4 separate regions of the Homo sapiens genome follow, and all the other regions are linked to region 1. Evidence: fine-mapped expression QTL. A gene starts in region 1. Each other region holds a variant in brackets. All regions are shown on one strand. Distances are between the middles of the regions. Region 1 holds the start of FCHSD1 (FCH and double SH3 domains 1). Region 2 overlaps PCDHA1 (protocadherin alpha 1). Region 3 holds the start of PCDHA6 (protocadherin alpha 6). Region 4 overlaps DIAPH1 (diaphanous related formin 1).

What was found. PIP is the estimated chance that this variant, and not a neighbour inherited with it, causes the effect.
Region 2: its variant is fine-mapped to the expression of FCHSD1 in whole blood (TOPMed, PIP above 0.99).
Region 3: its variant is fine-mapped to the expression of FCHSD1 in whole blood (INTERVAL, PIP 0.96).
Region 4: its variant is fine-mapped to the expression of FCHSD1 in whole blood (INTERVAL, PIP 0.98).

What each region holds. Positions count from the first base shown.
Region 1 is chr5:141,648,294-141,653,878 of GRCh38, reverse strand. FCHSD1 (FCH and double SH3 domains 1) reads left to right here and starts at 2,461. Exons shown (of 20, transcript NM_033449.3): 1 at 2,461-2,531; 2 at 2,762-2,859; 3 at 3,475-3,520; 4 at 3,925-3,992; 5 at 4,343-4,484; 6 at 4,571-4,707; 7 at 4,859-4,922. The coding sequence starts at 2,511. ARAP3 (ArfGAP with RhoGAP domain, ankyrin repeat and PH domain 3) reads left to right here. Exons shown (of 33, transcript NM_022481.6): 33 at 1-477. RefSeq lists an enhancer at 3,861-4,439.
Region 2 is chr5:140,857,476-140,863,060 of GRCh38, reverse strand. The region is part of intron 1 of PCDHA1 (protocadherin alpha 1); the gene reads right to left. All of the region lies in intron 1 of PCDHA2 (protocadherin alpha 2), which reads right to left. All of the region lies in intron 1 of PCDHA3 (protocadherin alpha 3), which reads right to left. The region is part of intron 1 of PCDHA4 (protocadherin alpha 4); the gene reads right to left. It also overlaps PCDHA5, PCDHA6, PCDHA7, PCDHA8, PCDHA9 and PCDHA10, and 2 more genes. Among named protein-coding and RNA genes, the nearest start is that of PCDHA10, 4.4 kb to the right of the region's middle. The variant TG/G (reference allele first, on the strand shown) is at 3,351.
Region 3 is chr5:140,827,552-140,833,136 of GRCh38, reverse strand. The region is part of intron 1 of PCDHA1 (protocadherin alpha 1); the gene reads right to left. All of the region lies in intron 1 of PCDHA2 (protocadherin alpha 2), which reads right to left. All of the region lies in intron 1 of PCDHA3 (protocadherin alpha 3), which reads right to left. The region is part of intron 1 of PCDHA4 (protocadherin alpha 4); the gene reads right to left. It also overlaps PCDHA5, PCDHA6 and PCDHA@. The variant G/A (reference allele first, on the strand shown) is at 2,689.
Region 4 is chr5:141,608,709-141,614,293 of GRCh38, reverse strand. The region is part of intron 1 of DIAPH1 (diaphanous related formin 1); the gene reads left to right. Among named protein-coding and RNA genes, the nearest start is that of DIAPH1, 7.5 kb to the left of the region's middle. The variant A/TATTA (reference allele first, on the strand shown) is at 2,220.

The sequences.
Region 1 (5,585 bases):
TTCCTCTGCCCTGGCTGGAAAGACTCCAGAATCCAGTGTGGTGCTGTGGAAGGAGCACTGGACTAAAGGCTTCAGTGGCTGCGTGTCCCAGGACAGGTCATGGCCCCTCTCTGGGCCCAGCCCATTTATCTATACCATGAGGTAACTGAAGTAAGGAGAGCAGTGAATGTCAAACTGTGTTTCTTAGAGCCATAAGCCCCACATATTATCCCTGAACAAGGGCAGCTCCTGCTTTATATATTTGATACGTAGGGGTTCCATGAGAGATTTTGGGTTTTAAAGGAATGGTTTTACTGCATTAAAGAAAAAAAATGCTTTGGAAACCAGAGGCCTGGGTGATGTTAAAGTCTATCCTGTCCCACTTCCTACATTCTGGGACTACCGTGAAGCCTGGAGTAGGGAGAGCGAGTTTGGGAGCTGGGACTCGGGGAGTCAAAAATAGATGAGTAATTGTCAATAAACCTGGGAACCAAAAGACTACCATTCTCATTCATTCATTCAACAAATATGTATTGTGCACCTAATTGGTGCCAGGTCTGGGGATATAGCATGAACAAAACAAACAGGGCCCCTGCTCTTATGAATCCTCCGTTGTGGAGGGGAACAGAAAATAGCAAATAAACACATAAACCAGTACTTGAACAAGTGAGTTTAGTGCTGTGAAGAAACTGAACCAAAGTGATGAGCTTGAAGAGTGATTGTGGAGGCCAGGCGCAGTGGCTCACACCTGTAATCCCAGCACTTTGGGAGGCTGAGGGGGATGGATTACCTGAGGTCAGGAGTTTGAGACCATCCTGGCAAAGATGGTGAAACCCTGTCTCTACTAAAAATACAAAATTAGCTGGTTGTGGTGGCACGTGCTTGTAATCCCAGCTACTCGGGAGGCTGAAGCAGAAGAATCACTTGAACCTGGTAGGTGGAGGTTGCAGTGAGCCGAGATTGCACCATTGCACTCCAGCCTGGCAACAGAGCAAGACTCCATCTCAAAAAAAAAAGAGTGATTGTGGAGATGGTCTTTGGATGGGTGGATGGGGAAGGCATCTGTGAAGAGTTGCAAAGTAAGGGAAAGAAGCTGTTGGAGGCGACAGATGGAACGCTGGAAGGAGGAGATTCTGGAGAAAGAAAGCAGGCATGAAGAACTCTGCATTGGAAGGGACTTGGTCTACTGAGGGAACAGCAAAGAGGCTGGAGCACAGTGAGCAGACAGTGGGAGGAGAGTACAGGCTGAAGTAAGAAAGACCAGCAGGGTCTTCCATGCGTAGCCTTGAAGGCCATGGATTCTATTTGGATTTTATTCTGAAGCAAGTGCATTTTAAGCAAGTAAATTATGAGATCTTATTTCCCTTTAAAAAAGAAAAAAAAGGTTGATCACTCTGAGTGCTGTGTGAACAGTGGGTTGGGGTGAGGGCAGTGTGGAAGCAAGGAGATCAGATATTAGACCAGAAGTCTAATAATGGGGGCTTGGACTAGGATGGTGGTCTTGGAAATTGAGGGAAGTGGATCAAGAGGTTTTTGTTTGTTTATTGTTGTTTGAAATAGAACCTGTAGGACTTACTGATGGATAGAATGTAGGGGTAGGAGAAGGCACATTGACTCTGGGTTTCTGACTTAACTGACTGGAGGAAATGCGGTGCCATTTAAAACGTTACGGGGGGAGGATCAGGTTGAAGGAGGTTTAAAAGCTTTAAAAGTTGAGGTTCCTATTAGATATACTAGCAGAGGTGTCAGTGGGGAGTTGGAATGTGAATCTGGAGTTTTGAGACATGTCAGGGGTACTGGGACAGGTGCCTGAGCCAAAGAAGCTTAGGTGAGGAGGATGAGGAATTGGGGAGAGGCTCCTCAGGAAGCAGTGCTAGGGCTGGAAGATCCTAAAGGTGGCAGGGGCTTCCTGCGCATCTCCCAGCTCTCGCCGACTCACTGGTATCGTTTAGTTTTCAGTGGGGCCAAGTCTTTTTCCCTTTGGGCCTGGTTCCTTCCTGGATCCAGGCATCTTTCTCACCCCGCTCACGCTGGCTTTTCCAGTTAAGCGGGAATTAGGAAAAGGTCTGGGACCAGCCCTCTCTTCGTCAGATGCATCTTTGCTCAGGTGCCCAGTGACTCAGTTTCCCTGGTCACACACTGAATTCCTCTCCATTCCTCATCATTAGCTCGGGGACTGGGGATCTACATATGCAAATGAATAATTATCAATAATTACAGGCTGAATCAGTGGTTACACTACAAATAGAACTTAGGCGTCTTGACTCAGATGCCTGGGGTTCTTCCCACCGCCCAGCGGACGCTGCGTCCGCCCCGCCCGCCCCGCCACCCGGACCCTGCCGGCGTATTCGCAGCAGTAACAGGTTTAGTTTCTCGGTGGCCCCCTCTCGCTTCCGCGCCCTGCGACGTCGCCGGACAAGTCGTGGGCGGGCAGAGGGCGGGGCCTGACCTGGCCTGGGGCGGGGCTCCATAGTGGGCGGGGCTTCCTCCAGTTCCGGAGTCCAGTGGCTGACCGCCTTGCTGGAGCGGAGATGCAGCCGCCGCCCCGAAAAGTGAGCTTGGCCCTGAATGGGGACTCCTGGCGGGCTGGGGGAACGGAGGGAGCTAAGGGGGCATCCGACTTGTGGTAGGAGACGGGAAGTCGGAAGGGGTCAGACCCCAAACCAGAAGTAACAGAGGAAAGAGCTCAGCACCCCCCCGGCCCCGCCCCCTCACCGCTCCCTGCGCGGAGTGTTTTTTAGGTCCTTGCGCTGGGGTCTTCATCCTCTCTTTGCCCCCACAGGTGAAGCCGGCCCAGGAGGTGAAGCTTCGCTTCCTGGAACAGCTGAGCATCCTTCAGACCTGGCAGCAGAGGGAGGCGGATCTGCTGGAGGACATCAGGTAGCTCCCCCAACCCCCTTCATTTACACTCACCTTCGTCGTTGTGCGCCACTTCTCCCCAATATACATGTGCTGGGGTGGAGGAACAGGGGCCAAGAGCTCCCCAGCCGACCCATCCACAGCCCTCACCCTAGGCCTGGCCTCTCCAGATACTGGATAGGAATGCTCCCCCACCTAACCCCTCCCAACCCCCTCCCACCCACATAAACACACAGGAACCCTCCCTCAAAGCCCTTGACTCCACACCACTGCCCCCAACCCCACAATCAACCTTAGGGCAGAATCCCTCTCCCTCTTCCAGACCTGTTGGAAGGCTGGCAGACATCGTACCCAGGCCCCCATCAGTCTTCACCTCTAAGCCTACAGATGAACCTCTGGGGTGGGGAGGATCCTGCTGGGGCCCGGGGCAGTAAGGTGAGGGTTTCCTGTGTTGCAGCTGCCCGAGGTGATCTCAAGGACTCCCATCAGTCCCATTCCCTCTGGGTGTAGTTACACTCTAGGAACCTGGCTCCCCCCAACCGCTCCCTCCTGCCCAGAGTAGAGGACTGAGGATGGGAGAACAGGACCAAACATAACCTTATCCCCCACCTCACCCCCGACCTGCAATCTCCGCAGATCCTACAGCAAGCAGAGGGCAGCCATTGAACGGGAGTATGGGCAGGTATGGGACTTTTCTCTGGACCTTACCTCTTGTTCCAGCCTCTCTTATATCACCAGTAATGTCTGTCCATACCTATCCCTATTGTGGTCAAGAGCAGATGCCTAGAGTCAAGCAGACTGGTGTCAGATCCCTGCTGTGTAATTATAGCCATGTGACCTTGGACAAGTTACTTAACCTTTCTTGACCTCAGTTTCTTTCTCTGTGAAATGGGAATAATAATAATACCTTACCTTCATGTAGGGTTGTTGTAAGGATTAAACAAATTAATGACTATAAGGCATTTAGCAAAGCAAGTGGCACATAATGTACCCAAAGAATGGTATGATTATACTCTGATGTCATATTCTGCCAGTTGGGGTGGGTCTTTGAAAGGGAACTTGGTTCTGTGATGGCTTTTTCACCAGGCACTCCAGAAACTGGCTGGCCCATTCCTGAAGAGGGAAGGGCACCGGAGCGGTGAGATGGACAGCAGGTGGGCCCTATGGAGGGGGAGGGCCACAGAGGCCAAAAAGTGATGGGGAGCTCAGCCCCAGGAACCTGTGGGGATGAAGGCCTAGCAAGTGGGGAAGGCACGTGAGCTGTAGGTAGAGCTGACACAGCAGCAGCAGAGGAGCTGACCCAGCAAGGACACTGTGGGTGGGGTGGAGGGCAGGAGTGAGGCTTGTGGCTGAGCTAATGGGCTGATCGATTGATGGGCTCCCAGACAAGGGAGGATGGGAAAGCACTCTGTCTCCCATGGTGTTGGTCAGGGGGCAGGGGGTGGGGGTGGTCTCATGAAGCTGTGGAGTGCTCTCCTCCTCAACACAGACCTTCTCTGGGGAGGGGCAGGACAGTGTTCGGTGCCTGGCGCTGCCTGCTGGATGCCACCGTGGCTGGGGGCCAAACCCGACTCCAGGCGTCTGACCGATACCGTGACCTAGCAGGGGGTACAGGGCGGAGCGCCAAGGAGCAGGTGCTTAGGAAGGTATGGCTCAGAGGTTGGGGTGAAGGAAGAGCTGGCTTGGGACCAAAGGTGGTCTAGGTAAGGACTTTGTGTATGCATCCCAATAGGGAACAGAGAACCTCCAGAGGGCGCAGGCTGAGGTGCTGCAGTCTGTCCGGGAGCTGAGCCGAAGTCGGAAGCTGTATGGGCAGCGGGAACGTGTGTGGGCCTTGGCACAGGAGAAGGCGGCTGATGTCCAGGCCAGGTGGGGTCATGGAGAGTGAGGAAGCCCAAGGTTGGGGAACAGGGAGGTGGGGCTGTCTAGGGGTGGAGCCAAGTCACCAAAGCTGGGCCTGACTCTGATCTCATATTCTCCCACTTGGGGTGGGCCTGACTCCTTTCTCTCATCTGCACAGGCTAAACCGAAGTGACCATGGGATCTTCCACTCTCGGACCAGTCTCCAGAAACTGAGCACCAAGGTTCGAGGGATGAGGGCATGAGTGGGGGCAGGGAAGAGGGAGGCAGAGTAGTCTAGTGGTTTGGAACATAGGTGCATATGTATGAAAGACTGGGTTGAATCCAGGCTCTCCTACTTCCTGGGTGGGTAACCTTGGTTAATTTACTTGATCTCTGTGAGCCTTATTTTCTTCTATAAAATGGAGAGAATACCCTTCTTTTTCAGTCCTTTAATATGCATTTATTGAGGATCTGTATATAATAGGCACTGTTCTAGACATTATGGATACAGTGGAGAACACTACCAATGGAGTTCCTGCCCTCACAGTCTGGTTAAGAGAGACAGACAGCAAATAAATACTTAGATTAAGATGAAAATAAAACAAGGTACTATGATAAAGAATAACAAGGGGGTAGAATTTAGAGGGAGGCCTCTCTGAATAGGTGGCCTAACTGTCAAGAAGGAGCTGGCCTTGCAAAGATCTAGGGGAAGAACATTGCAGAGAGAAGAAATGGTGAGTGCAAAGGGTCTGAGGTGGGAATAACTTTGTAGGCTCGAGGAACTGAGAGAGGGCCAGTATGGCTGGAGTACTGTGAGCAAGGGAACAAGCGCTTGAAAAGAGGTCAGAGAGATTGCGGGGGCCAGCTCATATTGAACGTGGTGGACCATGGTAAGGAACAGTGGA
Region 2 (5,585 bases), 790 kb after region 1:
TGGAACGGGTGCTGCCAGCTGACAGATGCAGCTGTTGCGACAACCAGGCGTCATAGCTGGAGTCCACCGTGCGCACCTTCGCCACCAAGTGGCCTGCATCCACTGAATACCGCACCAGCTCACTCACAGCGCCGCCAGCCCACCCAAGGCGCCAGCAGCGCAGACAAAGTTGTCGTTCCAGCACTAATACCTGGCAGCGTCACATTGCTGCTCAGAGGCGGCATGCCCGCGTCGCGCGCTCTCACCTAGAACTGCAGCAGCTCCAGCTCCTCGTAGTCCAGTGGCTGCAACGCGTACCTCTTGCCGCTCTCCGCGTGCACCCACACATAGCTAGACAGCGCGCACTCGCCCACCCGCTGTTCCATCAACGAGTAGGACACCAGCACGTTCTCCTGCGCGTCCCGGTCCCGCGCGGACACTGTGAAGTCGTGGCAGCCCCGCGGGTTGTTACCTTTCACGAACACCATGTACTCGGGCTGCTGGAACGCCAGGGCATTGTGGTTCACTGTTCGGCCACTTCCACGGACCCGATGGCTGTGGCCAACAATGAAAGCGAGTCCCCATTCCGAGCGATTACCAACAATGGATAGATTTGCTCTCTTGGTCCAGGGCGCTGTGGAGTACCAACGAATAGTTTCTGGGCAGCGCCTTTTGAAGGTAGACACCAGCTTGAAGAGACGTGAGGAGTCAGGGTGCGGGTCGTCTGTCCCTTGGCACTGAAGTTAGGGTCAATTACACTGATTAGGGCTATGACGGTACCCAGTGGAGCGTCCTCCTGTACAGGGAATGATAGTGACTTACTGCTAACTCTGGAACACTATCATTGATGTCCAAGACTTCTATCAAGTCTGTGCAGTGATCAAACATTGGGGAATTGCCTGTGTCAACTGCCTGTATTTGAATCTTTCATTATTTAGTTTCCTCAAAACCTATCTTTACATTTATTTATCCACTGTCTGAATCTATGCGAAAAAGGGCTTCTATGTTAGGGGAGACATCAGTTGCAAAGAAACAATGTGACGGTTTGAACCCTCGTCAAAATCCAAGGGGTTAAGTCTAATAACCAGTGTACCTTCTCTTGCATTTTCCAGTAATTTCACATGATAGACTCCTTTGTCAAACACTGGGCATCATCATTTACATCCAGCGCTGTGATATATAATGCTTTGGTGCCTGTCAGCTCAGCTTCGCCCCCATCAGTTGCTTTGAGCACCAAGAGTAGCTCTGAAGTGACTTACCTATCTGAAAGAATTTTTAAAATACACCTTCAAGTGGTTTTACCTGCTCTTGGTATTTCCAGGGAAAAATAATCATTGCGGCACAGTATGTAAGTCATCAGAGCATTGGCCCCGACGTCGGCATCACAGACACCCTCTAGTGAAACACGATAATCAAGAGCTCTCGTTTCAGAAACAGATTCTTTTGTGTTGCTGAGAACACTGGCAGGTTGTCTTTATTGTTCTTCACTTTCACCTCCACATGGAAAACCTGTAGCAGCTTGTCCACGATCACTTCCAGGTGGATGCTGCACTCCGAGATCCTCCCACACAGCTCCTCGAGGTCTATCAGAGAACTCACAAAAATGCCATTCTGCAGATTTACCTCCAGAAGGTTTCTGCGGCTTTTGGAATCCAACTGAAACAGGCGCGGTATCAGCTCCACAAGCTCCAGACCCAGGTCCTGCGCAATAGGGACCGCGAAGACGCTATGTGCCGTCCTTGGCCTCTTCCAGGATGGTGTAGTGGAACTGGTCCTTTCCCGCTTCACAAAATTCAAGGAGCAGAAGCCAGTGCTGTAGGCTCCGGGATTCCTGGCCACTTTGTCTAGCAGCTAAAATTATGCCTCTCTTTTGGTTAGTAAAACAATATTTCATGACTAGAAAGACTTAGTTCCTCTGAGACCTTTTGGTCCTTGTTCCTGAGGTTCCAAGTGGTCTTAATGGGTGTTTGTAGTTTTTAAAGTACAGGAACAATGGAGCTTCTTTCTGATCTAGGAATAATCTGATTTTCTTCTGTTAAAAAAAATACCTTTCGGCCGGGTGCGGTGGCACTCGGCCAGCACTTTGGGAAGCCGAGGCCGGTGGATCACGAGGTCAGGAGATCTAGACCATCCTGGCTAACACGGTGAAACCTCGTCTCTACTAAAAATACAAAAAATTAGCCTGGCGTGTTGGCGGGCACCTGTAGTCCCAGCTACTCCGGAGGCTGAGGCAGGAGAATAGCGTGAACCTGGGAGGCGGAGCTTGCAGTGAGCCGAGATCGTGCCACTGCACTCCAGCCTGGGCAACAGAGCGAGACTCCGTCTCAAAAAAATAAAAAATAAAAAACAAAAAAACCAAAAAAACTTTTCATGGAGAACAACAATATCCTGTCGCTCAAAACATAAGTGCATTTGATTTCATATTATTTCACTTATCTTCTTCGTTCCTGATTCCTGCATATGTTTATGTTTCTCTTTGTGAGCTTCCAACTCCTTTCCTATACCTTCTTGTGTATGATCAGTACCTCTTCAAAGGTGGGTTTGTCTTACAAATCAGAATTCCATGAAGAGTTTTATCTTGTATGTAGACATCCTAAATAAAGTACTACTGCACCAACTGTATTATCACGTGAATTAATATGAAAAAGATCATATTTGCAGGATAATGGTGTTACTATTGCTTTTGCTTTTTTCAATTTTTGAAATAGGGTCTCACTTTGTCATCCAGGCTGGAGTGCAGTGGCACAATCATGGGTCACTGCAGCCTCAACTTCCCAGGCTCAAGCCGTCCTCCCACCTCACCCTCCCAAGTAGCACTACAGTAGGGACTAAAGGCATGTACCACCATGCCTGGCTTATATATACATAAGTACATATATAGATATATATGTAAGGAGAGCCCATCATATATATATACATATATATATACACATATATACATATATATACACACACACACAGTACAAGATATCCCTATGTCGCCCAGGTTGGTCTTGAACTCCTGGCCTCAAACCATCCTCCCACCTTGGCCTCTCAAAATGCTGGGATTACAGGTGTGAGCCACCATGCCTGGCCTTAAGTTAGTATTGATGGAGAGATTAATGCACTTGTATACCTGAGACTTTTACAATTGATATGAGTTTTTACTAAGTTTTTTATATTACTTATAATATAAGACATTAAGGAAGATTTTTTTTCAAAATATCAGAGGGGGAAGTATATATTTCATAAACCTATTTGATAAAATAACAAATACACTTCTAAACTCTGCATTAACTTAGCATCTATAATTTCTAAGAGCTGGAGACAGGGCATGGAGAGTATTAACACTGAAAGAATGCCATGCTTAAATTCTTGCCACAATTTTTTTT[TG/G]GTGTTCCTAAACTTGAACAATAATTTTAATTTTATTTGAAGCTATTTGTGAAGCACGTACTGAGTAACAAATTCAATCTCCATACTCAAAGAGAAAGGAAAGAAAAAAGTAATTGCTAAGAGCCATAGGCAAGATGACAAATTCATGGCATTGGTGTTTGGTAACACTAGAATTAATAAATTTTTTTTAAAAATGAAATCATGGGTATCAGGTAACAACCAATTTCAGGAAAACACAATTGATAGTGTAGTTTTGTCACTCTGCAACTAAGTTAGCTTTCATTTCTGAGTCTATATCATCTAACCCAACCCTGTTTAAGATGACTAGAGAAGCTATTAAACTATACAATATATCAGATCAGTAGAAAACATTAATTTTATTTTCTCCTCAAACTTTTAATATTAATTCATACTAAAGTATTTTCAGTCTCAAAAGTAAAAAGTGTTCAAATTCTCTTCATTATTAAACATAAGCATGACTCCTTCCTTAAAGTGAAAGAGCTAATACCTGAATATCATAAGCAATGCCTAATGCTGATAAAGGAGCAGATAATGAAGAGCTACTGGATAAAATTATGTAAATAAAAGAAACATACATTTTCTTCTGCTAAGTGAATAATACACACTGACACAGGTACCACTACAACTAAAATAAAAATGGAAAACGTTTTTAAAGTTCAAAGCATTTAACTTAATTGCTAAGATTAAGAAATTTTTACCAATGAACTGCCCACCTACTTACTGCACTATTGAGAAAAAGCTGTAATCACTGAACATTGAAATCTACTATGGCAGTATAAGCTGTGGTACGCTACACATATTCTACACATGGAGGAAAACACATTTTCACTGAAGAGATATAGATCAGTGGAATTTTTTGGTAATGCAAATACAATCAAATCAAAATTTAGATTGGAAATGAAATAACATGAAGTACTAATCTCACAAATATTTGTAACGAAAAGTGATTATGAAAGTAAATCGTCAGAACTGCAACCTATATCACATATTTGTATTGGAAAATATTAGTGTATTCAGAATAAATTGTTATTTAAAAAAATTTAAGTACCAATCAAAGGCTGACACACTGGGTAGGATAAAAAAATTTTAAAACTCCTGGAATAAATTATATTACAAAGGTATCACTAGAAATATTCAAGCATAAATGGAATGTAGACAAAAATGAAATATTCTGATACATATTTGAGAAAATGCGGTAAGAGAAAATATTATTCATAAAGCACAAAAGGAAAATGAAAACGTAATAACCCACCTTCCTAGAGTGGTCCCCTCCAATAGACTGATCTTCCCCGTCCACATCTACCATTGGGCATGGTGGAAGGCTGGGGCTGAAGGCCATGAGGTCCGCCTTGGGCAGGCCCTCCCCAGAACACACCCTCTGCCGCCTCTGCTGCGAGTAAGACCAGCTCCCCACCGCGCTAGAGCACACCAGCGTGGGCTTCACCGGCCCACATGCGCCCTCGGTGGGCGCCGCCGAGCACCTCAGTGCAGTGTACAGCAGCAGCGTGAGCACCAGCAAGCTGGACACCGCGCAGATGGCGATGATCAGGTACACGTTGACATCCACCAGGGCCACCTCGGGCGCCACGCCCACTGAAGCCCGCGACGAGGCCTTGGGTGCCTGGCTGCCCTCCACAAGCGACACAAGCACAGTGGCCGTGGCCGTCAGCGACGGCTCGCCATGGTCCTTCACCAGCACCAGTAGGCGCTGGCGTGGCGAGTCAGTCTCATCCAGAGCGCGCGTCGTACTGATCTCGCCCGTGTACAGCCCCACGCGAAACGGGATGCGTGCACCAACCGCCGCCGACTGCAATTCATACGACAGCCACGCGTTGTATCCAGAGTCAGCGTCCACTGCGCGCACCTTAGCCACCACGTGACCCGCAACCACCGACCGCAGCACCAGCTCACTGACTGCACCGCCCGCGCTGCCAGCGGGAGACGCCAGCAGCGCGGGAGCGTTGTCGTTCTCGTCCAGCACGAACACCTGCAGCGTCAAGTTGCTGCCCAGAGGCGGCACGCCCCCATCGCGCGCGCTCACCTGGAACTGTAGCAGCTCCAGCTCCTCGTGGTCCAGCGGCTGCAGCGCGTACACCTTGCCGCTCTCCGCGTGCACCGACACGTAGCTCGACAGCGAGCGCTCGCCCAACCGCCGCTCCACCAGAGAGTAGGACACCAGGGCGTTCTCCTGCGCGTCCGCGTCCCACGCAGAC
Region 3 (5,585 bases), 820 kb after region 1:
TTTTTGACAGCTTTCAAATGACTTTGAAGAGTGTCAAAATTACTCGTCTAGTACTCAAAGTTATACAAAAGGTTTTTCTCATATTACTTTTCTTGCTTTATATCACACTCTCTCTTATGGGAACCATGTGCTTTACCCAAAGTGGACTATTCCTCATTTCTAGGTACATTTGGAATTTTCTGTATACTCACTTAAGTTACTCTCTTCTCATGAATACCTGTTAGTCTCCATATTCTCCCAGGGAAAACTCTTTCCATTTTATAACCAGTAAAACATCATGACTCTTCACGGTCTCCTTCAACAAGGGAAAAAGGCAAAGATTTTTTTCCAATTCCAATAACACTATGATGTACCTTTCTAGCACCTCTTACAATATTCTTGCTTTTACTATCATCGTATTTATGTAGGATACTTACCTTTATTTATCTATTAAATTTGAAGCCAGGTCTTGTTAATTCGATGATTCTCAGCAGGCACAGTGTGATACTCTTAAAGACCCTCCTAGGAACTTTTTAAAAAACATTTACTCACTAGCAACGCTATAGTTCTCTACTTCCTAAGAAAGTATGCTGTTTTGAGGCTGTTAGATATCATTAGCTACACAAATGGTGATCTTCAGTATAATCAGAGACAATTCTGCCACTCTTAAGTATGTAGAGTTAGTTTTTTTAAATTTTAGTGCAATATTAATTACACGCTTAAAAATTATCATGTACTTCTTTTAGAAAACAGAAAATACCACTACCAGTTTCTGCCATTTCAAGAATGGAAAATGCTCACATTAGGAAACACAAACCACAACTCAGTCCTCTAATGGCCCTTAAGCAACTTTTAAATGTGGGCAAATACACCATTCATGCTTAATGTAGTCTAATATTTCCTGGGAACATGGACAACACAAAAAGTCAAAACCAACTCCAGGAAATCACTGAGGACTCAGCAGGTTAAATGTCTTTTGAATTCATAAAACTTTTCCACTGTCCAAGTCTTAATTCAATTTTCAACTTTGAAACACACATTTTAAATTGCTTTTAATGTAGAACATGGCATTTAAAATGTTAGAGACATCTCAGATTAAATTGGTAATTATGGCCTCACTATGAATAACAAAAATTCAATCTTTACGTAAAATGAAAACAATATGGAATCCGTAATGAGAGTTTCCTAGCATAAAATGACATAAAGTTTTTCTTTTCCTCTTCGGAAAACTAGTAGCAAATTTTTTAAGCACTTGCTATTTGGCAAACACAGTTATAAGCGCCTTACAATATCAACTTACTAAAGCTTTATGACAATTCTATCATTGAAACTAGTGTTTATCATTCCAACTTTACAGAAGAAACTGAAATAGAGGTGAAACAATCCATCCACAAAACAAAATTGGTAGCGATGAAATTTAGGCAAGGGAGGATAACACCAAAACTCACACTTAATCACTACTTTTTGCTGCTTTTCATTCAAAGAAATAATGACTAGCCAAGCATAGTGGCTCACACCTATAATCTTAGTACTTTGGGAGGCCAAGGTGGGCAGATCACTTGCACCCAGTAGTTTGAGACCAGCCTGGGCAACATGGAGAAACCCCATCTCTTAAAAAAAAAAAAAAAAAAAAAAAAGGTGGGGGGCATGGTGGTGCTCGTGTGTAGTAACTCCAGAGGCTGAGGTGAGAGAATCACTTGAGCCCAGGCATTCGAGGGTGCAGTGAGCCATTATTGCACCACTGTACTCCAGCATGGGTGACAGAGCAAGACCCTGTCACACACACACACACACATACAAAATAGTGAATAGTTTAAATTACTGTGTAGAAACAATGAAAACACTAATACAAAGAAATAGATTTAGACTCCATGAAGAGAAGACCATCAAGTGAAATTCAAACAGAAATAAGAGAGCCGCAATGCCAGAGGAATGCAGTTTTCATATAAATTTACTTGATCACAAGGTCTAAATTCTGTTGAATCACTATTTTTCCATTATTTAGATCGGTAGTAAATAAATCAATAACCATAACAACCAGAAGTATTCAGGCTGATAACTATTGTTTTTGTCCTTTATTCCTCAATGGTTTAAAAGGGGGACAATAAATGAACACTATTGCCTCCCGGAATCACAAGTCTGAAAAGGGAACCACAGATAAAAACTATGATGATCAGAGTTCTTACACAAAATGGATAAAATCAAAGCGTTAGCTTAATAAAAGTGTCGACAGAAAAACATTGAAATGGAAAGTGTAAAAACATAAGTGATACACTGGTGCTCAAATTTCAATATATGATCAAAAAAGAGTATATGTAAAAAAATTATCCTAAAGCTCAAAGGCAAACAAATGAAAATCCCATATAATTAATCAGAAAAAAATGCTACTATGATTCTGAATTAAAATGCAACAGAAAACGACATATCCAAGAATATTTTGGTTTGAAGACAAAAATTCTGAGGTGCAGATTGTGGACAGTGATTTCTAATTTCACTTAAATTATGAATATTAAAGAAGCAAAGAGATTAAAATAAGAAACACAATAAAATGAAAATATGTAATTTTGTAAAATTAATTAAAAATTAAAAACAGAAATATAGAAGACAAATATGAGGAAAACAATTATAAATTTAAAATAAAAATTAACTGTTAATTATGAAAATTCACTTACTTTGGCATCATGATCTTCATTTAAATCCTGATTCTCC[G/A]CCTTACCCATCATAATAGGACAAGGTGAAAGGCTGGGGCTAAAGGCCATGAGATCCATCTTGGGTGGGCCCTCCCCGGAGCACACCCTCTGCCGCCTCTGCTGCGAGTACGACCAGCTCCCCACTGCGCTGGAGCACACCAGCGTGGGCTTGTCCGCCGTGCACGCGCCCTCGGTGGGTGGCGCCGAGCACCGCAGCGCTGTGTACAGCAGTAGCGTGAGGACCAGCAGGCTGGATACCGCGCAGATGGCGATGATCAGGTACACGTTGACATCCACCAGCGCCGCCTCTGGGCCCGCGGCGCCCACCGACGCCCGTGATGACGCCTTTGGAGCCTGGCCACTCTCCACCAGCGACACCAGAACCGTGGCCGTCGCTGTCAGCGCCGGCTCACCGTGGTCTTTCACCAGCACCAGCAGCCGGTGGCGCGGAGAGTCCGCTTCGTCCAGGACACGAGTGGTGCTGATCTCGCCCGTGTACAGCCCCACGCGAAACGGGAAGCGAGCGCTGCTTGCCGGGGGCTGCAGCTCATACGAAAGCCACGCGTTGTAGCCTGAGTCGGCGTCAACTGCGCGCACCTTCGCCACCACTTGGCCTGCACCCAGTGACCGCGGCACCAGCTCGCTCACTGCACCACCAGTACCACCCACCCGAGGCGCCAGCAGCGCCGGCGCGTTGTCGTTCTCGTCCAGCACGAACACCTGCAGCGTCACGTTGCTGCCCAGAGGCGGCACGCCCGCGTCGCGCGCGCTCACCTGAAACTGCAGCAGCTCTAGCTCCTCGTGGTCCAGCGGCTGCAGCGCGTACACCTTGCCGCTCTCCGCGTGCACCGAAATGTAGCTCGACAACGCGCGCTCGCCCACCCGCCGCTCCACCAGCGAGTAGGACACCAGCGCGTTCTCCTGCGCGTCCGCGTCTCGCGCAGACACCGTGAAGATGTGGCAGCCCGGCGGGTTGTTCTCCTTCACGAACACTGTGTACTCGGGCTGCGCGAACGCCGGAGCATTGTCATTCATGTCGGCCACCTCCACAGACAAGCTGGCGGTGGCCCACAGCGAAGGCGAGCCCCCGTCCCGCGCGGTTACCACCAACTCATAGGCCGACACGCTCTCGCGGTCCAGGGCACTGTCCAGCACCAACGAGTAGTAATTCTTGAAGGTGGACACCAGCTTGAAAGGGACGTGAGGCGTCAGCGAGCAGTTCACCTGCCCGTTGGCACCTGAATCGAGGTCGTTCACGCTAATTAGGGCGATGACAGTACCAAATTGAGCGTCTTCACGTACAGGCAAGGATAAGGAAGTCAGTGCTATCTCAGGGACGTTATCATTTTTATCCAAAATTCTCACTAAAACGGTGCAATGACCCGCCATGGGAGGATGGCCTTTGTCCGTGGCGTCAATGAGGATTTTGTATAAGTTTTCTTGTTCAAAATCCAAATTACCCCGAATCACTATTTCTCCCGTATTTCGATCTATGCTAAAGTGGTCAATAACCATGGCTGCAACAAGGCTATTAAAAGAATATGAAATTGCCCCATTCGCTCCTTCATCCCGATCAGAAGCATTCAGTCTGATAACTGTTGTTCCGTTGTCTGCATTTTCGAATATTCTTACTTCGTATTCAGACTGTTCGAAAGTGGGAGCATTATCATTCACATCCAGCACTGTGACCAGCAGCTGAACAGTGCCTGTGAGCTCAGGTTTGCCCCCATCTGTGGCTGTCAGGAATAAGTTGTGTGCAGGAGCTTCCTCTCTGTCCAAGGATTTCTTTAATAAGAGCCCAATTTGTTTATTGTCATCACTGTTTATTTTCACATCTAGCCCGAAGTATTCGCTAGAACTGAGTTTATAGGTTAAGATGGAATTTGAGCCAACATCTGCATCGGACGCGCCCTCCAGTGGAAACACAGAATCTGGCAGCCTAGATTCGTAAATCAGCACTCTTTGTTCCTCTACCGGGAACAAGGGCGGGTTGTCGTTAATGTCCCTCACCTCCACGTCCACATGGAAAACCTGCAGCGGCCTGTCCACGATCACCTCCAGGTGGATGCTGCACTCCGCGCTCCGCCCGCACAGCTCCTCGCGGTCGATCCGAGAATTCACAAACAAAATGCCATTCTGCAGATTTACCTCCAGAAGGTCCTCGCGGTCTTTGGAGGCCATCCTGAACAGGCGCGGCACCAGCTCCGCCAGCTCCAGCCCCAGGTCCTGCGCGATCCGGCCCACGAAGGTGCCGTGTTTGGCCTCCTCGGGTACGGAGTAGTGGAGCTGGCCGCTCCCCACCTTCCAGGCTGCGAGGAGCAGAAGCGGGAGGAGCAGACATTGCTTTCCCAATCTATCCTCCGGGGTAAACACCATGTCAAATACCTCTGGTTTTATTTCCATTAGAAGATCTTCCGCATAAAGATAAAATACTGTATGTTCCGGAATTTATTAATCCATTTCTTCTGCGTCCGCCATCATTCAACAGTCAGGGAATGATGCAGTAATAGAAGAAATTTGAATGTTGGCTAGCTATAACTTCATGGTAGACAGCGACATCATGCGGCTCCAAAAGGTAAGAAATCAATTCACGTAACAGTGCTATACCATATATTTTTAAAACAGTATCTTCTTTTCTCTACTTTTATAGTAAACCCTCCTCACGTTTGTAATTTGCACGGTCAGTGTTATCCCGACTTCTTTTATTAATTTAAAGTAAGGGATCTAATTATTCACAGCTAAACAACTTTTCTACCAATATTTGCAACATTAATATCAACCAGTTCAGCAAATTTAAGTGTTAACGGAACTGCTTTTTAAATCAGAAATGTAAACTATTCTACACTCTTGGTAGAAAAGAAACTTGCCCACATCTGTCTTTCCTAGGACATGCTATTATATAGTGCTCTAGGGAAA
Region 4 (5,585 bases), 40 kb after region 1:
AGAACAGGTTAAAATAATTTTTATTGATAAATACTAGATGTTATAGAGAAGCAAAGAGTTTGTATATGCAGGTTTATATATCCCTTTTTATGTCCCAGTAGCTGAAATTATTTATGGCTACAAAAATCATCCCCATTTTGAAACAAACTTTGTATTACTTAAGTGGTTTTCTTTTTTCATTGAGCCTCCTTTTCTCAATTACCTTTGTTTGAAAGCAGTAGGCAAAAAATTCATTTTATGCTACCAGCAAAGCATTGGATGTTTGCCCCTCCTTGGGGTTAGGTGAGACAAAGCCACACTCTCCCCTTGCCTGGCTGCCTGTCACCTCCTCCCTGTGTTTTTATTCCTTTCCTACTTACGTGGGGGCTGATTTGAGCGCTATGAATAGCCAGGCCTTTGGGGAATTAGGGGCAGTCAGAAGCTGTTGATAATAAAATTTCTTAAAACTTTTAAGCTAAAATTGAAAAGTAAAGAATAATTACTATGAACATATTTTACTGTATTTCTCCTTTTTTTTAACACGTTTCTTAGGATCAAGAAACCCTTTTTAAGGAAGTAAAAGAATTACTGAAGGAAAAGAGAAATAGACTAATATTTTAATGAATTTTACCACTGATTACAAGATAACTCTCATTGTTCTTTCAACTTTGAAATTCTTACTTCCATCCATTATTAAATCTTACTGTGAATGGTACCCTTAAAACTTCAGAGTTGGAAGGGACTTTAAATGTCATCAAGTCCAAACACCCACTCAGTGCAACAGTCACTTCTGCAGTTGTAGGTTGGAAACATCAGGGGGCTAAGAGGTGGAAATTGGATGAACAAGTGGAGGAAGAGGAGCAGAAATTTTGGATTCTACATTTTCTTTACTAAATTTTAGGATCTTGGGAATGGCTGGAGTAGTAGAAAGAGATTATATAAAAGGAACAGATATACTAGAAGCTGTGAGATTGAAAGGAAAAAGATTGAAGAAATTGGCTCTCTATTGCTTGGCTCTGTAACAGTTAGGGAGAGTCAGTTTGCCCTTTAAATATTTGTTTAAATTTCTTTCCTCCAAGGCGGGGGATAGAACAGATAAGGGGATGCAAATGAGAGTTAGCATAATGGAATTGAATTAAAGGAAACATTCTCTTATGGAGGATGGGAAAATTCCATCCTTGGTGGTGGATATGACTGGTCCTTAGTAGCTATCTGGGAATTTTGTTAGGGTGGCAAATATAGGTAGAATTTATGGTGTCCTGTATAATTTTCTGGATTTCTGATTTTGTGACTTATTTCCTGTCTTGTGAGTAGTGTCATCTGAAGGCTTTGGATTTGTAATTTCTTTTAAGATTTAAAATACTGTAAGGACCCAAGACAGGATGATTTATAAACCATTTTTGATACTGAAGGTCACAGAAAACCAAAGAGCATACGTTGGTAGTTGGCCTTACATCTCAGATCTGTCTGTGTTTTATTTTCAGTGTCAGAACTTTAAGATCAAGTAGAAAAGATACCCTTCATCTCTATTTTTACAGCATTATTGATATATAATTAAAATACAATAAACTGCATATTTATTCATGAAACCATTTCTATAGTCAAGATAATGAATATAGCAGTCACCTTCAAGTTTCCTCCTTCTCTCTTTGTTATCCCTCCCTCTCACCCATCCTCGTCCTCCCATCTCCAGATTACCACTAATTTTCTTTCTGTAACTATAGATTAGTTTGTGTTTTCTAGAATTTTATATAAATGGAATCATACAGTATGAACCCTTTTGCTGGGGCTTCTTTTATTGTGATGTGTGGTCTTTCATATATCAATAGCTTAATCCTTTATATTGCTGAGTACTATTACATTGTATGGATTTACACAATTTGTTTATTCATTTACCCTATTGATGGACATTTGGGGTGTTCCCAGTTTTGGGAGTGCAGTTTTTGTCTGTGAACATTCTCATACAACTTTTTGGGCTGGACATATGTCTTCATTTCTCTTGGGTAAGTACCCATGAGTGGAATGACTGGGTCATTTGGTAGATCTATGCTTAATTGAGAAATTGCCAAACTGTTTTCAAACTGTTTTCCAAACTGTTTTCATTTTACATTCTTACCAGCAATGTGTAAAAGTTCCAATTTCCTGTCAACTGTTAGTATGATCAGTCTTAAATTTTAGCCATTCTAGTGGGTATGTGATGATATCTCAGTATGCTTTATTTATTTATTTATTTATTTATT[A/TATTA]TTTTTTGAGACAGAGTTTCACTCTCGTCGCTCAGGCTGGAGTACAGTGGCATAATCTCGGCTTACCGGAGCCTCTGCCTCCCAGGTTCAAGGGATTCTCCTGCCTCAGCCACCTGAGTAGCTGGGATTACAGGAGGCTGCCACCACACCCAGCTAATTTTTGTATTTTTAGTAGAGATGGGGTTTCATCATGTTGGCCAAGCTGGTCTTGAACTCCTAACTTCAGGTGATCCACCTGCCTGGGCCTCCCAAAGTGCTGGGATTACAGGCGTGAGCCACTGTGCCCAGCTGCAGTATGCTTTAATTTGTCATTCCCTAATGATGTTGAACATCTTTTCTTGTCCTTACTTGCTGTTTATATATCTTTCTTAAGAATCTGTTCAAGATTTTGCCCATTTGCTATCTATGTATCGTCCGTGAAGAATCTGCTCATGATTTTTCCTTCCTTCCTTCCTTTCTGTCTTTTGTCTTTCTTTTGTCTGTCTGACTTTCTTTTGTCTGTCTTTCATTCTGTCTTTGAAATGGTAGTCTCACTCTGTTGCCTAAGTTGGAATGCAGTAGTGCAGTCATGGCTCACTGCAGCCTTAATCTCCTGGGCTTCAGGAATCCTGCCTCAGCCTCACAAGTAGCTGGGACTACAGGCGTGTGTCACCACTTCTGGCTGTCTTTTCATTTTCCTAACAGTGTATTTTGAAGAACCAAAAAACTTAATTTTGATGGAGTCCAATTTTTTTTCATTTTTGTTTTGTGTGTTACATTTCAAAAATCTTTGCTAAAATTATGGTCGCTAAGGTTTTCTCCTCTGTTTTGTTTTTTGTTGTTGTTAAAAGAGAATGGATCTCACTTTGTTGCCTGGTCTGGAGTGCAGTGGCACAATCATAGGTCACTGCAGCCTTGAAACTCCTGGGCTCAGCCTCCCCAGTACCTGGGACCACCATGCCTGGCTAATTTTTCTTTTCTTTTCTTTTCTTTTTTTCTTTTTTTGAGGCAGAGTCTCACTCTGTCACCCAATCTGGAGTGCAGTGGTGCAATGACAACTCAGTTGCAGCATCGACCTCCTGGGCTCAAGCAATCCAGCTGCCTCGGTCTCCTGGAGTATCTGGGACTACCGGCATGCACCACAATGCCTGGCTGATTTTTTTCTTTTTCTTTTTTTTTTTTTTATAGTGGTGGGGTTTCACTATGTTGCCCAGGCTGGTCTTGAACTCTTGGGCTCAAGTGATCCTCCTACCTTGGCTTCCCAAAGTGCTGGCATTAAGGCATGAGTCACTGCACCTGGCCTAATTTTTTTTATGTTTTATTTTTGTAGAAATGACGTCTCGCTAGGCGGGGTACGGTGGCTCATGTCTGTAATCCCAGCACTCTCGGAGGCTGAGGTGGGCAGATCACGAGGTCAGGAGTTTGAGACCAGCCTGGCCAAGAGACCAGCCTGTCCAATGTGGTGAAACCCCATTTCTACTAAAAATACAAAAATTGGGCTGGGCACAGTGGCTCACACCTGTAATCCCAGCACTTTGGGAGGTCAGGGTGGGCGGATCACGAGATGAAGAGATCGAGACCATCCTGGCCAACATGGTGAAACCCCGTCTCTACTAAAAATACAAAACTTAGCTGGGCGTGGTGGTGCGTGCCTGTAATCCCAGCTACTCGGGAGGCTGAGGCAGGAGAATTGCTTGAACCTGGGAGGTGGAGGTTGCAGTGAGCCGAGGTTGTGCCACTGCACTCCAGCCTGGCGACAGAGTGAGACTGTCTCAAAAACAAAACAAAACAAAAAAATTAGCCGGGTGTGGTGGTGGGTGCCTGTAATCCTAGCTACTTGGGAGGCTGAGGCAGGAGAATTGCTTGAACCCAGGAGACGGAGGTTGCAGTGAGCCATACATCATGTCACCCTTGGGCGACAGAGCGAGACTCCAACTCAGAAAAAAAAGAAAGAAAGAAAGAAAGAAATGGGGTCTCACTATGTTGCCCAGGCTGGTCTCGAACTCCTAGCGTCAAGTGATCCTCCTGCCTTGGCCTCCCAAAGCCCTGTGATTACAAGTGTGAGCCACTGTGCTCGGCTTCTCTCTTTTCTTCTAGAACTTGTATAGATTTAGCTTTTAAATTTCCCTCTTTTCTATCATGCATATGTGAGTTCCACATGTTCACTTTGGGATATAAATTGTCACCTGTGGTCAACAGAGAACATTTCTGATACTCTGAGGATTTCGGGACTTTCATTCCATTTATCGTGGAAGCATTTTTTTCTTGTTAGGTGGTGGTGTTAGCAACCTTTTGTTTTCCTGTATTCAGTATACTACAGATTGTGTAATGCCAGTCTTCCTGTTTCTAAATATTAATGAATGTTTAGCATCTTTATAGATAAGGAAAATTAATTCATTCCAGACTAGGATAGGGAATAACAACAGTAGCAGTAATAAAAGCAGTTGTTTGTTGCATACTTAACTGTATCCCTAGTGCAGTGCTAAAGAGCCTTAGATTTATTATCTCATTAATCTCTACATTGACCTTATAAAATAGGTACTGTTATTATTCCCATTTTATAGGTAATGAAACTGGAACTCAGATCAAGCAGCCTGCTTGAAGACATAGAACTAGTTAGTGACAGAGCTAGGATTCAAACCTAGGCCTAGCTGATTCAAAACTCATGGACTTACTCACTACATTGTACTGACAGTTTATGTGTGTCCAGTTTTTGTGCCTGCAGTGTAAAACTGGACTGCAGTGTAACTATTCACTGCTAGGAATTTCTTAGAAAATTTTGGTGGTATTCCCTTAGAGTTCTTTGGTCATCTACAGTCTATTAAAATGAACTGGATTCTCCTAGAGTTCAGTTGGCAGGAAAAAAGTACTAGGCTTAGATGTAAAAAGCGTAGTGGCTAAATGCCTGTTTTTTTTTTTTTTTTTTTGCATTTAGTAATTTAGACTTTGAAGCCATTGGAAGAATCTTAATTAAACCTTTTTTAGGCATGAAAAAATAGCTATTACAGTGCTTGCAAAACCTATCTTTCGCTTGGCTCATGCGTTATTAGGATGATGCTTAAATTATTATTTTTTAATGTAACTGTGTCTCCTTTGTAAGTAGAACAGCTCTAACATCATCACCTGTCAGGAGTTTTAGTTGTTTAAATTGCTGAGAGCCACAAGTAGTGGTAACAATGTTACAGGAAGGGGGAAGCTGTTACTAGACTGTCTCTATAGTTATCCTTTTTATATTTTAAATTTGACGTTTGGTATTCTTAAAGACCTCTGTTTGTGCTCCTGAAATTTGACTGTTGTAATGATTGCAAATGGCTAATAACCAGGATCTCTTCTGAGTCTGGGAACTGCTGAAGTTTGTTCTTTAGACCTGGCAGTTATTTGCCAGTG